Homo sapiens: one gene and its partner. The protein of the gene in region 2 purifies or fractionates together with the protein of the main gene of each other region. This does not show direct contact. Each region holds a gene or a part of one and is shown on either strand. Other genes may lie near its edges.

Evidence for each region.
Region 1: the proteins of FGD5 (region 2) and SDHA purify together in Homo sapiens (affinity purification with mass spectrometry; 2 studies listed by BioGRID and IntAct, with this or other methods). This does not show direct contact.

What each region holds. Positions count from the first base shown.
Region 1 is NC_000005.10:249,052-256,319, reverse strand, and holds part of SDHA (succinate dehydrogenase [ubiquinone] flavoprotein subunit, mitochondrial), read right to left. Parts: intron 5,329-7,268; coding exon 5,217-5,328; intron 4,983-5,216; coding exon 4,852-4,982; intron 1,928-4,851; coding exon 1,814-1,927; intron 1-1,813. UniProt on the Homo sapiens protein: Flavoprotein (FP) subunit of succinate dehydrogenase (SDH) that is involved in complex II of the mitochondrial electron transport chain and is responsible for transferring electrons from succinate to ubiquinone (coenzyme Q).
Region 2 is NC_000003.12:14,814,167-14,822,042, reverse strand, and holds the start of FGD5 (FYVE, RhoGEF and PH domain-containing protein 5), read right to left. Parts: upstream 2,972-7,876; coding exon 447-2,971; intron 1-446. UniProt on the Homo sapiens protein: Activates CDC42, a member of the Ras-like family of Rho- and Rac proteins, by exchanging bound GDP for free GTP. Mediates VEGF-induced CDC42 activation.

The DNA of each region.
Region 1 (7,268 bases), on a different chromosome or scaffold from region 2:
TCAGTGGTAAGTTAAGCACAAAAATGTACAAAAAGCCATCTCTTGTGTTCCTTTTGAAAAATTTTAACTATAAAAGTAGATTTATGGCATGTGAACTTTAAGATTCTCAGTGCTTTACAAAAATGCTCCCATCATGTAAAGTGGGAGAACCCTTGTCTATACCAAGACACTTTATGTTTAAACCATCTACTTCCAGTTTTTCTACTTCAAAGTAAATATTTATATAGGTTGAACATCCCTAATCCAAAAATCTGAAATTCTCTAAAATCTGAAACTTTCTGAGCACCAGCATGACATTCAAAAGAAATGTGCTATGGAGTCAGATCTTCCGATTAGGGATGCTCAGACAGTAAGTATAATGCAAATATTCCAAAGTCTGAACAAGCCTGAAATCCACAACGCTTCTGGTCCCAAGGATTTCAGAGAAGGAATACTCAAGCTGTGTATTAAATATGCACACACAGGAAAAGGTAGGCACATATACAAAGAAATTTAAACCATAATGGGTCGTCTCTGGTTAGTGAGCTCTTATTTCAATCTCTTTGTACTTTCTAAAATGAGTATGTATTTCTTGAAAAATCACTAAAACTGGCTGGGGGTGTTGGTTCATGCCTGTTGGGAGGCCAAGACAGGTGGATCACTTGAGCGCAGGAGTTCAAGACTAGCCTGGGCAACGTGGAGAAACCCCATCTCTACAAAACATATAAAAATTAGCCAGGCATGGTGCCATGTGCCCAGGAAGCTGAGGTGGGAGGATCACCTGAGCCTGGGGGAGGTTGAGGCTGCAGTGAGACGAGATCAAGCCAACACATATCAGCCTGGGCAACAGAGATGAGACTCTATCTCAGAAAAACAAAAAAAAACCAAAAAACCCGAACCCGGAAACATTAAAAATAGACTTGTGCTAAGCGAGTGAAGTGTGATTTCTATACACTATCAAGAAATGGCCTTCATGAGAAGTCCTGAAAATGACCTACTGCCTGAATCACAGACACACTAGATGATAGTGAGAGTCCAAAGGTAACTTCCACAGACACAGCTAAGTGATTATACGACTCTTACAAGCTATGAAAAGTTTAAGGGTAAAAGCTTTCTATCTTCATTATTTCTGAATCTTAATGCCCAGCGGAAATGCCACACAGGTGAACTGTGCTTGTGTGGAACAAGGCTGCGACCCCCCTACCACACCCTCGGCTGGCTGTTCCCAGGACGCTGCTCACCGTGTGTGGAAAAAGGCTGCGACCCCCTACCACACCCTCGGCTGGCTGTTCCCAGGACACTGCTCACCCCAACCCCACCTCCATTTCTGCCCTTCTCTGCTTGCTCAGTGCCCAGGGGATGCTAAAGGCTGCACCACATCCCCTCAGCTCCCCTGCAGACGCTTCCAGTTGGCCCAGCCCGTGGGAGGAGAGGGGAGGTGTCTCTTCTGGGCTCCCTTAACGTGGGACTGGTTTCTGGTAATGGCTGTGTGTCCCCACCCCACAGATGCTTTCTCGCTAGGTCCACAATCATCATCTCCTCCCCTACCACCAGGCCTTGGACACTTGCTCCTGCCCAGTGACGTCCATCTGGCGCACACCACGGAGCAACCCTTCCTTAAGGCTCCTCTGAACCACCTGCAGGAACTGGATTCTGTTTCCAGCCCGAAGCCCGACTGCTGTCGGAGTGCCTTTTTCAGCGGTGCCTCGAATCTGTCGGGAGTTGATTTAAATCTGGCCTGCTCTTCCCCGTTCACCATCAGCAAGGCCAGCCCGCAGGCCTGGGCGGGGCCGTGTGGGTGCTGGGCTGTGGTGAGAACGAGCTCCACACTGACCTTCCCAGTGCCAACGTCCACATAGGACAGGGTGTGCTTCCTCCAGTGCTCCTCAAAGGGCTTCTTCTGTTGCCCCTGGATGGGCTTGGAGTAATCGTACTCATCAATCCGCACCTGAGGCCAGAAACACCATCACGTTTCTTATTACTCTAACAGAGCAATACAGAAAAAACACAGCAGACATTAACATGATCTAAGAGACAGATGCCCTAGAACTCATTCCATTTCCACTTCAGCCCAGGAGGTTGGCACCATCAACATGTTCAGAACCCACGGAGGCCGCATGGCTGGCCAGGGGGTGTGCAGCCAGCAGTGAGTCCACAGTAATCCATGTCCGCATGTTCCCTTAAGCATCCTTTATGTACCTAAGAGTTTATCAAATACTTTGTCTTTTTGCTCCATGTGCTGGGAGACTACCTCAATCTTTTCTTTCAGCCTGTTTTTATTAAAAAAAAATTTTTTTTTTGAGACAGGGTCTGGCTATGTCACCTGGGCTGGAGTGCAGTGGTGTGATCACAGCTTGCCGGAGCCTTGACTTCCCAGGCTCAATCAATCCTCCTGCCTCAGCCTCCTGTGCTACCACCACACCTGGCTCATTTTTTATGTTTTTGTAGAGACACGTTTCGCCATGTTGCCCAGGCTGGTCTACAACTCTGGGGCTCAAGTCATTGGCCTGCCTCAGCCTCCCAAATGCTGGGATTACAGGTGTGAGGCACTGCACCTGGCTTCTATTCTAATTAAAACTGACTGTGACCAACTAAATTTATGCACTGGCCAGGCACAGTGGCTCATGCCTGTAACCCTAGCACTTTGGGAGGCCGAGGTGGGTGGTTCACTTGAGGTCAGGAGTTCGAGACCAGCCCGGCCAATATGGTGAAACCCCATCTCTACTGAAAATACAAAATTAGGCATGGTGGCAGTGTGTCTGTAATCCCAGCTGCTTGGGAGGCTGAGGCAGGAGAATCACTTGAACCCGGGAGGCAGAGGTTGCAGTGAGCTGAGATCACGCCACTGCACTCCAGCCTGGGGGACAGTGAGATTCCTTCTCAAAAAAATAAAAATAAAAATAATAAATTTACTATTATTCTGTATTCTGGCAAACACGGATTCATATACTTTGCAGGAAACTCTTAATACATACAAGGAGACAAGAGCAAGTTCTGAGCAGTGATCACAGCCATCAGCATATTCTAGTGGAGGGTAAATCAGTAAAATTTCATGGTGAATAAAAATGATTTTCCCATTCACCATGTTCAGCTGACTGGAAAGGCTGCCACCAGCCGCCTACACACGGTCCTGAACCAGCCTGTGCGCCTGCCTTGTGGAGCCTTTGTCCTTTTGCTGATGTGGTTTATCCTGAACTTGCATTTGCATCCCAAGCTTCCCTTTCCGTCGTTTTTTGCTATCATATGGGAAAAACTCTTACCAGGCAGAATCCAACACGTGCGCTCTGCACAAAAATCAGTTCATCTGAAGAACAAGTGACCACAGGGCAGGCTCTATAATACCTTTTCCAAACCACAGGACAGGTCTGAAATGGTGGCTTACTCCTTATTTAATAAACTGGCATTTCCTCCACAGCGCAGGTCTGAAATGGTGACTTACTCATTAATAAACTGGCATTTCATCCACAGGGCAGGTCTGAAACAGTGACTTACTTGTTAATAAACTGGCATTTTCCTCCACAGGGCAGGTCTGAAACGGTGGCTTACTCGTTAATAAACTGGCATTTCCTCCACAGGGCAGGTATGAAACGGTGACTTACTCGTTATTTAATAAACTGGCATTTCCTCCACAGGGCAGGCTTGAAACGGTGACTTACTCATTATTTAATAAACTGGCACTTCCTCCACAGGGCAGGTTTGAAACGGTGGCTTACTCGTTAATAAACTGGCATTTCCTCCACAGGACAGGCTTAAAACGGTGACTTACTCGTTACTAAACTGGCATTTCCTCCACAGGGCAGGTTTGAAACGGTGACTTACTCGTTAATAAACTGGCATTTCCTCCACAGGGCAGGTTTGAAATGGTGGCTTACTCGTTATTTAATAAACTGGCATTTCCTCCACAGGGCAGGCTTGAAACGGTGGCTTACTCGTTATTTAATAAACTGGCATTTCCTCCACAGGGCAGGCTTGAAATGGTGGCTTACTCCTTATTTAATAAACGGGCATTTCCTCCACAGGGCAGGCTTGAAACGGTGGCTTACTCGTTATTTAATAAACGGGCATTTCCTCCACAGGGCAGGCTTGAAACGGTGGCTTACTCCTTATTTAATAAACTGGCATTTCCTTCACAGGGCAGGTTTGAAACGGTGGCTTATTCGTTAATAAACTGGCATTTCCTCCACAGGACAGGTTTGAAACAGTGACTTACTCGTTAATAAACTGGCATTTCCTCCACAGGGCAGGTTTGAAACAGTGGCTTACTCGTTATTTAATAAACTGGCATTTCCACCACAGGGCAGGTCTGAAACGGTGGCTTACTCGTTATTTAATAAACTGGCATTTCCTCCACAGGGCAGGCTTGAAACGGTGGCTTACTCGTTATTTAATAAACTGGCATTTCCTCCACAGGGCAGGTTTGAAACGGTGGCTTACTCGTTATTTAATAAACTGGCATTTCCTCCACAGGGCAGGTTTGAAACGGTGGCTTACTCGTTATTTAATAAACTGGCATTTCCTCCACAGGGCAGGCTTGAAATGATGGCTTACTCGTTATTTAATAAACTGGCATTTATTTCCTGGTCTTGCCACTCTAGCTGCACTTCTAACCTTGGCCTTCTAACAGCAAAGCACATTGGCTTGGAGATGCCACTGCTGGCATCAGTGGATGCCGACCCAAAGCAAGGAAAAGGTCACAGTGATCCAGAAGATGGCGAGAACCCAGGGATCAAAGTTACCAGGGGGGAAAAAGGCATTTTTTGGATTTACTTTTGGGGCAACGAAAGAAAATGCAGAGAAAATGCAGGGGTGGGGCTGAGTCCCACCAGGTGGCAGGAAAAGGCAGGTGCAGGTGGGCGTGGTGAGAAGGCCCACCTTGTAGTCTTCCCTGGCATGCGCGCCCCGTGACTCCTTCCGTGCCTCTGCTCCGTAGATGGTCTGCAGCGCACACAGCATCAGGTTCTGCAGCTCCAGGGTCTCCACCAGGTCCGTGTTCCAGACCATTCCTGGGGACACAAAAAGTTCCATCAGGGGCAGGCGGGACCCAGTCACATGGGCCCTCCGAGCTGTCAGCCTGGGCCTGCTAGTCCATGGAGTCACTGGTTGTGGCTTTATAGCTGTGGGCCAGGACCCATCCAGACAGCAAGCACGGAACTAAGTCAGCACTGACGGGACAGACACCAGCCCACCCTGCAGAAGGAAGGGCCCAACAGTGTGCACAGAGCCCACTGTCTGCTCACCCCGGTCGAACGTCTTCAGGTGCTTTAGGTCTCCATAGAGCTTGCTGATTTTCCCACAACCTTCTTGCAACACGCTTCCCACACGGAACACGGCAGCATGATTTTGCATTGACTGTGGCACAAAATATTATTTGTAAACTTTTAATCCATAGAAGCAGCCATACCAAGAACTGCTTAACTTTTAGACCTGTTGTTTTGCATTTCACTTAAAAGTTACATAAATTAAACAGAAAAATTAGGAAATTCAGACTATGAGTTTATTACTCCAAACTTAAAAATGAAGTTTTGACTAAAGCTTCTGAATAAATAAATGTTTCTATTACATACACATCTTAGACCCACACACATCCTTTCCAGCAGGATACAGCCAGGGTCCAGGACTCCAAGCAGACTGCCTGTGAGGCACCATGTTCCATACAGCTCCACGGCCAACCAGGCAGCGCTGCCTCTCCACACCCCTGGCGGGACTCCTGACGCGGGGTCTGGTGGTGAACGTGACACAAGCCAGCAGCCCTGTGGTGATACACACTAGGAGGAGCTGAGCAGAGCCCTGGTGATGGTGGTGTTGGAGCTGCACGTCTTCAAGGAGAGGGAGGGGCGTGGGTGGCTGGGGCCCTTGGCCCATCTGGCTACTGTCTTCTGCCTATCTTGTAGAAGCTCCTTGTACACTGAGTTCCTTCATAGTTTTACTGTGATGAGAGACGTGCTATGCAGTGGACCTGAAGTTTACTGTAGGTATGCTGGGAACTAGGCGTCAGCTTTTGCTTCCTGTGGGACAGGCACCACCTCAGTGATCCCTCCTCCTCCTTGCTTCTCCCTCTAACTGTGCTTTGCTCCACTGACCCTAATTTTCTCTTCCTCTACCAATGCACCTTCATGGTTTAATTTGGACATTTCATCTGATTTTCCTTAGACTCATACATAATCGTAACACTGTAATGCACATCAACCTAATGGTTTTTCAGGAAGAACAAATGAAAAACATTGCATCTCAGAATCTAGTATTACATTCTTTCATGTCCATTAGCAGCCACATGTTTTCATATCCTTTTTTTCGTATTTCTGGTTACATTATTTCAGGGCATTTTCAATTTTTTTTGAAATGTGAATGAGATATTTACTGATGTCTGAGCAGACTACTGCTGGCACATTGTAAAGCTACTGATTTTTAGATACAAATCTCTTATCCAGACACCTTACTACATTCTTGTTTTGTTTCTGTTAGTTTTTCAGTTTATTCCCTGGGAATTGTTTGGAAATTCTATCTGTAAATAATGACAATTGTATCTATTCCTTTTCAATATTTACTGCTGAGACCAGCTCGGTTGTGGAGACCCTAACCCAGCGGTGCTGGAGGAATTAAAGACACACACACAGAAATACAGCATGTGAAGTGGGAAATCAGGGGTCTTACAGCCTTCAGAGCTGAGAGCCTTGAACAGAGATTTACCCACATATTTATTGACAGCAAGCCAGTGATAAGATTTACTAAAAGTATTCCTTACGGGAAACAAAAGGATGGGCTCTGGCTAGTTATCTGCAGCAGGAAAATGTCCTTAAGGCACAGATCGCTCATGCTATTGTTTGTGGTTTAAGAATGCCTTAAACGGTTTTCCACCCTGGGTGGGCCAGGTGTCCCTTGCCCTCATTCCAGTAAACCGACAACCTTCCAGCGTGGGCATCATGGCCATCAAGAGCATGTCAGAGTGCTGCAGAGATTTTGTTTATGGCCAGTTTTGGGGACAGTTTATGGCCACATTGGGGGGCCTGTTCCCAACGTGTCCCCTTTATTTGTTTTGCAAAGTGATAAAAGCAAAGGCAGCTTTGTTACGGTGAGCTACTTCTTGCAGAGTCAGGATCCACATCTGCAGACTATACAAATAACACAGATTAAAAGCACAATCTTCATTGAAATCACAGAGCTTCCAAGTGTTTTTATCCATTTTAATGGATTACCAGCTGCTAATCTGTCTGCAGCTCCTTCAAGCACTCCAGTTCCTGGCATTAAGGTCAGGTGTGCTGGGATGCTTCAAATATCTGTTCTTTCAATTT
Region 2 (7,876 bases):
CTGCAACCTCCGCCTCCCGAGTTCAAGCAATTCTCCTGCCTCAGCCTCCCGAGCAGCTGGGATTACAGGTGCATGCCACCATGCCCAGCTAATTTTTGTATTTTTAGTAGAGACGGGGTTTCACCATGTTGACCAGGATGGTCTCGATCTCTTGACCTTGTGACCTGCCCGCCTCGGCCTCCCAAAGTGCTGGGATTACAGGCATGAGCCACTGCGCCCGGCCTTACTCTGATTTTCTTAAACTCTCTACCATGAGGTAGCATGAGTCCCATTTCACGGATGAAGTAACCGAGGCTCAGAGATATAAAGCCACTCACCCCAAGTCAACACAGCTAGTAAGAAACAGAGCCTGAGGCTGGAAAGCAAGTCCATCTGTCCCCCACACCCACGCTGCCTCCTGGACAGTTACAGCTGCCGAACAAGAAAGGAAATAGAATGTCAGGTACCTTTCTGCGTCCTGGTCTGCACTCTGCTGTTTGCTCTCAAAGGCGTTGAAGCTGCTCATGTCCACGTAGCCATCATTTTCGTTTGCTGTGGACAGGGCTCTGCTCTGATCTTCAAACAGCTTCGTGAACGCGCCAGCCCTGGCAGGTCTCCGGGGTGGAATCTGGATATTCTCATAGTCCGAGTTCATGGCTGGAATGTTCTCATAGTCTGAAGTGTCAGCGCTGGGGAAGGAGATGGACCGTGGCTTGGTCAGTGGCAAGGGCAGGAAGGGCGGCCGGGAGCGGTCTTCAAAGGACTCCACTCTGGACACCGTCCTGCTGAAGGGGACACCTTTCCTCTTGCCATCTCTATAAAAGATGAGGGAGGAGGGGGATTCAGAAGCCCGGAGCTTCCCAGTCCGAGACTTAAGCTGAGGGGAGTTGCTGAGGCTTCTCCGGTCAACTTCCAGAATCCTGGAAGGCCCGTGGTAGCTGGACTCTGAAGAGGACCTAGAGGAAGACACGTTCACATCCACATGCAATTTGTTCTCCGTCTTCTTCTTAAACGTCAGTGCCAGGAAGCGCTTAAAGGATGACTTCTTCTTCTTGTACTTGTCCGGGGAGTCGCTCTCGATCAGGAGTGAGGGAGAGCTCTTTGTGATGGGCTTCTTGGTGATGCAGGCCAGGTCGAAAGGAGGTGGGATGTCGACCATGGAAGAAGGCGTGGAGGTGCCGCTGGACGGAAGGTGGTTTCTCTGGGAGAAACTCCCAGAGGAGCCAATTACACACGACAGAGAGAGATTGTCCTCTTTCCTCTTTATCCTGTGGTCATCCAACCCTGACCCCTCAGGCTCCTGGTACACGGACACTGGAATCTCTCGGCCTTCCACGGAGAACGACCGAGGGTATAAAGTAAAGGCCCTGGGCTTTGCTGGCAAGGCCCTGCTGGCTTCCAAGGGCTTCCCCTCCAATGACAAAAGCGTCTTTCCCACCTCCTCTGCGGCACCTCCAATGCCAGGGGCTGACGAGCCCGCCTCAGGTCCGGTTTCTTCAGGGACGGTTTCTGGGACATAGCCGGCCACCTTCCCAGAGTGGGGCCGGACCCTCGTGCTGGTGTTCTTCCTGTCCGCGGGAACCAGGCCACCCTCTGCCTCACAGTTCAATTCTTCTTTCGAGCCATAACCACCCAGGGCGTCCGATGCAGCCTGCCCTCCTTCTCCAGGGGCCGCCTGACCGGGCAGGCCCACTCCCATCACATAGGGGTTGGCCAGTGCATCATCCAAGGCCTCCTCCTCCAGCACGACCACCACATCAGGGGCTGCGGGACCCTCGGCCGCTCCACCCTGTAGGGAGCCACACTGGCCACACAAAGCCCCCACCATGGGGTTCTCCTCCGCACGCAGCCCCAGCTTTGGTGCCTGCTCTGATTCTAAACCTTTCGCTGATTCAGAAAGAGGAGAACAGCTCTCGCTGCAAAAAGAGGTGCTCTCAGTTGGGAAGAACTCATAGGGGCTTCCTGTGAGGGAAGTCACGAAGTCCTCCATGCAGTCATTCTCAAAAGGGACAATCTGGCAGCTCTCCTCGGCGGACTCATCCTGTGCATGGTCCTCCAGGGTGGCGGCTGCCACTTCTTGGTTGGTTTTCTTCTCGTGGTCAGGTGGTTCACTGAGGTCAACCTGTTCCCCACCTGTGACACCCGTGGCCTCTTCACATCCCTCCTCAAGAACTTCAGGGCAGTCTGTGGCTGTCTCTGCCTCCTGGACCCCGGCCAGCTCCTCCTTCTCAGGGGGCTCCTCACTGGTGTCCTCAGCATCCTGTCCCATGTCCTCCGTGGGCCTGTCAGGACCCGAACCCTCATCTGCCCCTGCTGGGTCTGTGCTGGCACAGCCTTCCTCATCATCCTCCTCTGCCTCCCCGGGGGTGTCGGGGGGCTCCTGGTCCTCTCCATGGATGTGAGGCAGGAGGAGGTCGCTCTGGAAGACCCCCTCTCCAGCCCAAGGCCCACTGTCCTCCAGGCTGCACTCCCTGTGTGGCTGCACTAGCTTCTCTTCCTCCTCACTTCTGGACACCTGCTCCAGTGTCCCTGGCTCATCAGCGCAGCCCTCCCCTTCATCCTCAAGAGCAAGGTCTGTGCCTTCCTCACCCTCCCTGCTCAGCGCTCCTGCACCCGGAGCAGCAGGGGCCACTGAATCCTCACCAGCTCCTGTACCCTCCAGGCCACATGCCTCGCCTCCCTCTTCACGCTCCTCTTCCTCTTCCGCAGAGGACTCGGGAGACACCAGGGCTTTGTTCCCCACACTGCCCTCGTCCTTGGGTTCATCCTCCCTCAGCGGAACCCTGGGGACCACGATGTAATCCTCGTCGGTCTCCGACTCAGAGCACTTTGGGATGGACCGGGGCCCCTCATCAAGCCCCCTGTCTACACAGGGCAGCCGCCCGTTGCTGCATTTGTTCAAGCTGTCATTCAGGTACACACTGGCTCTCCACTCGTTTGGGGCAGTCAGCCTGGGCTTGGGGGCAATGGGGGGCTTCGGACCCCTGAACATGGAGTTTGGACTGTGAAGACTCTCGGGCCTGGCTGAGGAAGGGAATTTGGGCGCGGTCACTGGCGTCAGTGGACTGGTAGTCTTTGGCTTGGGAGCGACAGGTGGTTTTGGTGAATCTAGATGACAAAAATAGAGAAAAGGAGAAAAAGTACAATTAACTTTATTGCCATTCAGAGTCTCCTACACACCAGTTGCAGGGGACGCCACAGATGGTTCCGTCCATCCATGTGAAGCCCACCTCCCGTGCTTTGTCTTAGGCTTATGCCCTCCACCAGAATCTTTAAAACCCCTTGATTTTCCACTAAAGATTCATTCTGTAAACAAAGTGAACAGACCTTTCTTCTACACGCAGCCCAACTAACGAAAATCAACCAAATGAAATCCTGTGCTCCTCAAATGAAGTGTCCAGGTCAGTGCATTCATTCATCCAGCAGCTACTGATAAACACTTTCTATGACCCAGCAACCATGGGAAAAGGCTGAACTTGCTGTCACCCTCCCTGCTGCCCTCATGGAGCTTACATCCCCCCTTCTACAGCTACTCCATTGGGTACCCACTAGCTACACGCACAGCACTGCAGATGGCAGGGTCTCCTAGGGTCAAGAAGAGAAAACAGACTCTGCTGAGAACTCACAGTTGAGTTACAACAACTGGAGGGTAGAGCCGGGGACCCTTGGAATATTATGACTGAATAGCTGCCATTTCATCCCTTCATGAATGACACGCCAAAGGTTTGAAAGAGTGATGTGTGCTTCTGCTGGGGGTCACGTCTGGAATCTGCATGCTTCAGGACTGTGTCCAGCCAGGCCTACACCCAAATTTCATGGGCATGCAAATTTCATGGGAGAAATTATATAGTACGTGCCAACATGGATCTCTGGAAAAGGATGTACTTGCCACATGGATATCTGTGGATGCTGAGGACCTTCTGACCATGGCAGAATAAAAGATGTGGTGCAGACTACAATGCAACTGGAATTAGAGAAGCATGGGCTGCTGTGGCCAGGGAAGACCTCTTAAAGAAGGTGATATTTTAGCTAAGATTTGCAGGATAAGAAGGATCTAGAGAAGGGGAACGGTCAAATGAGTGGTTGCCAACTTTTGAGCTCAGCATCTCTCTGCTACAAGACTGCCCATGCCTCCTCCCTGGCTTCCTTGTCACCTGCCTGGCCCCCTAAGCTCCCTTGCATACTGCGGGCATAGAATCCATCTCCATCCCAACATCTCTGCTTCAAAAGTACTGCATGGATCCCTGCCACCCATAGATTAGGACTCCCACGTTTCTCCTTCAGCCTGGTCTAATCTCCCAGCTCCATTCCCACTAAGGCTTGGGTATGACACAAGTGGCCTCAAAATAACAGCCTGGCTCCTAACAGGAGGGAAGATGAAGCAGACTGCCGGGAGATCTCTGCCAGCAAACTCTTCTCTTCCCACTCATGTTAGGCCCAGTGTTGTCCCTGAAACATCTAACATTACTAATCTCTAATCCAGGGCTGTCCCTGGAATGTGAGCCACATGTATCACTACATAGGCAATTTTAAATTATCTTGTAGGCACATTAAAAATAAATAGGTAAGGCTGGGTGCAGTGGCTCACACATGTAATCCCAGCACTTTCAGAAGCTAAGGTGGGCAGATCACTTGAGGTCAGGAGTTCGAGACCAGCCTGGTCAACATGGTGAAACCCCGTCTCTACTAAAAACACAAAAATTAGCCGGGTGTGGTGGCACACGCCTGTAGTCTCAGCTACTCAGGAGGCTGAGGCAGAGGAATCACTTAAACCTGGGAGACAGAGGTTGCAATAAGCCAAGATTGAGCCACTGAACTCCCGCCTGGGTGACAAGAGCAAAACTCCGTCTCAAAAAAAAGTAAAAGTAATTTTAACGATATATTTTATTGGACTCAATATATCCAAATATTATCATTTCAATATGTAATCAATATATAAAATGTATTAATGAGGTGTTTGACACTCTTTTTTCATACTAAGTGTCCCAAATCTAATATGCATTTTACATTTGCAGCACACTTCAATTTAGACTAGCTACATTTTACCTGCTCACGAGCCACATGCGGCTGGTGGCTACGGTACTGTCCAGCACAGCTCTAACTGGTTTTAGACATCTCCATGGGACTGTACCACTGGCACCTCAATTTCAGTATTTCTGAAGCCAAAGTTGGTATCAGTGCCAATGGGTTTAAAGGTTAAAACAGCCACTGCATCAGACCCCTAATCCACACCATTTCATCCACATCAATGCCCAGGCCAGCCACTGACATCCATACAATGACCCAGAATCTTCTAGAAATAGTGACTATCAAACTCCTTGTTTCCGTACACAGTCACGTGTGTCCTAGTTTAGAAAAGCGTCTATCCATATTAGTGAAAAACAAAACATGGGAGCTTAAAAAGATATGCTTCAGCTACCTGTTAGAGTAGGGTAACAGAGGGAGCCTTTGGAGCCTGGCTGATCTGGGTCAAATCCTGACTTTGCTACTTATCAGCTATGAAACTCAGCCTCAGTTTCCTCATCTGTAAAATGGGTACCACACAGCACCTACCCTCAATGGATTGTTTTAAAAATTAAAGGCTACATATCAAAAGGGCTCAATAGCAGGCCTTCACATAGAAATACTCAATAGTAGCTGTTGTTCAGATAAAGTCCATCTTTGCCTACCCCAGATCTTCCCTTGGTTGAAGTCTTGCTCTACACTGATACACTGCGTAATATGAGCTTCACACTGTCAACATTGGGTGGCAGGCATTGGCACGAAATTATTCTTTGGGGGTGGGACTCTCATTTCTTATCCTTAACAGGTGGGCATTTCACATGGGTGCCATGAGACAGGACAAAGGGACAGGTGGGCCATGAAAAATGACCATCACCTTGGCTATATCACCCCCGTCCCACCCAATCCTTCATCCAATCAAGCTATTGATCTGAAGGCACTGTCTCCTAGGGAAAGGTTATGGTGGGTGTCTGAGGCATGATCCTGCAAGAAAATGACTTCCCCACAGGAGCCTCTGGGAATGGCAAACACTCAGCGCCTGTCCTGTGCTCCCAGCCCCAGGCGCAGAGTGCTTCAGCCACATCCCTTCTGAGATCAAGGCAAGCCAAAAGAAGAAAGGCTTCATCTGACCCTCACTGAAGGAGGAGGAAACTAAGGCACAGAGAGGGTGAGTGGCTGGTGTGGGGCTACCCAGCGAGTCCAGAGCAGGGCCCTGGTAGAACCTGCGTTTCCGGCTTTCTAGTGTTGTCACCTGACCCTCTGCCATCCCCTTTTTGCCACAGAGTGTTTCCTCTATGATGGAGACTCAGAGGTCCCAGCATCTGGTGAAGCAGAGAAGGGTAAAATGCAGGGAAACTAAGGCCACGGTGACCAGAAACAGCTGGGCAGTTAAAAAATGTATGTAAGGCTGCGTCCAGGGCTCAGAACTACTAACTGACCAAAAAGTGAACAACTAGCTTTAATTTGCTCCCATTCAATTTCTCTTAGTCTAATTCCATTAAATACATATTTATTGAGTACCAACTATGTGCCAGGCCCTAATCTAGATTCTTTGGATACATCAATAAGTATAACAAAGCCCCCAGACTCAGGGACCTTGTATTGAGAGGTGGTGGGAGATATGCAAGAGAAAGGGTAAGTACATTACATATCATATGCTAGATGATGATAAAGTCTATGCAAAATGATTAGGAGTATTTTTTTTTTTTTTGCGATTTTAGATAGAGTGACCAGCATAGGCTTCACTGAGAGGACATGTGAGCAAAGACACGAAAGTGGTGAGGAAAGCTAGGACTCACTTGGCATCCAAGAAACAGCGAAGAGGCCGGCAAGGCCAGATGGGACGGAGTGATCGAGCAGGAGAAGCAGATGAGGCGAAAGGAATCATAGGAGGGTGCAGATTATGCAGGGCTTTGACTCAGAGTGATGTGGGAAGCCACTGCAGGGTTTTGAGCAGAGGGACATGCACATTCTGGCTAATGTGTTGAAATAAACTGAAATGGTGAGGAAGAAAGCAGGGAGACCAGTGAGGAGACTCCTGCAATTATCCAAGCAAGAGATGATGGAGGCTTGGACCAGGCTGAGGTGAAAAGAGGTCAGATTCTCAACAGGAAGGGAGAGCTGAGGGGATCTGCTGACCATATGAATGTGGGGTGTAAAAGAAAGAGAAAAGTCAAGAACGACACCAAGGTTTTGAGTCTGCGCAACTAGAAAGCTGAAGTTTCTGCCAACTGGAACAGGAAAGACTGCAGGTGCTGGGGAGGGAAATCCAGAATTTCAGTTTGCACGGGTCAAACTCCATTCACAGTCACCTACTACACACCCTGGTGGAGATGTCAAGCAGCTGGAGATGTCAAGCAGGCTCTGGCTTCTGAAGAGAGGTCTGGCCGGAGGTCACCATCATAGAGATGGAATTTAAGGCAGGAGCCTGTTGAGATCACCAGAGGCATGAGTGTGGACAGAGAAGAGGGCAGGGCCAAGGAGGGAGCTCTGGGGGCCCCAGCCAGCAGAGATGAGGAGGGTGCAAACAAATCAAGAGTATGAGAGCATCCAGCTCTGTCCCCTCCTACTCACCCGCATCACAAAAGGGAGCCAGATGGAGCTCCTGACCTCAGCATCATGTTATCTAGGTCTAAGGGCAATTCTGCCTAGAGAAGACCCAGAAAAGAGAGAGCACTGAGTGCAAGTTGAAGGACAGGAGGATTTTCACAATTAAAAAATAGGCTCCACCTGGATAGAGCATTCCAGGGAACTTTAGGGTATGCTGAGCTTTAGGGTATGGTAGGGCGAAACTATAGGCTAAATCAGAGCTGTGGTTTCCTTCTCTGGATTCCCTGTCCAGAACCCAGCATGGATGTAGCTGGTGGACCTTCTGGGCCCCCTGAGTTCCTCTGGA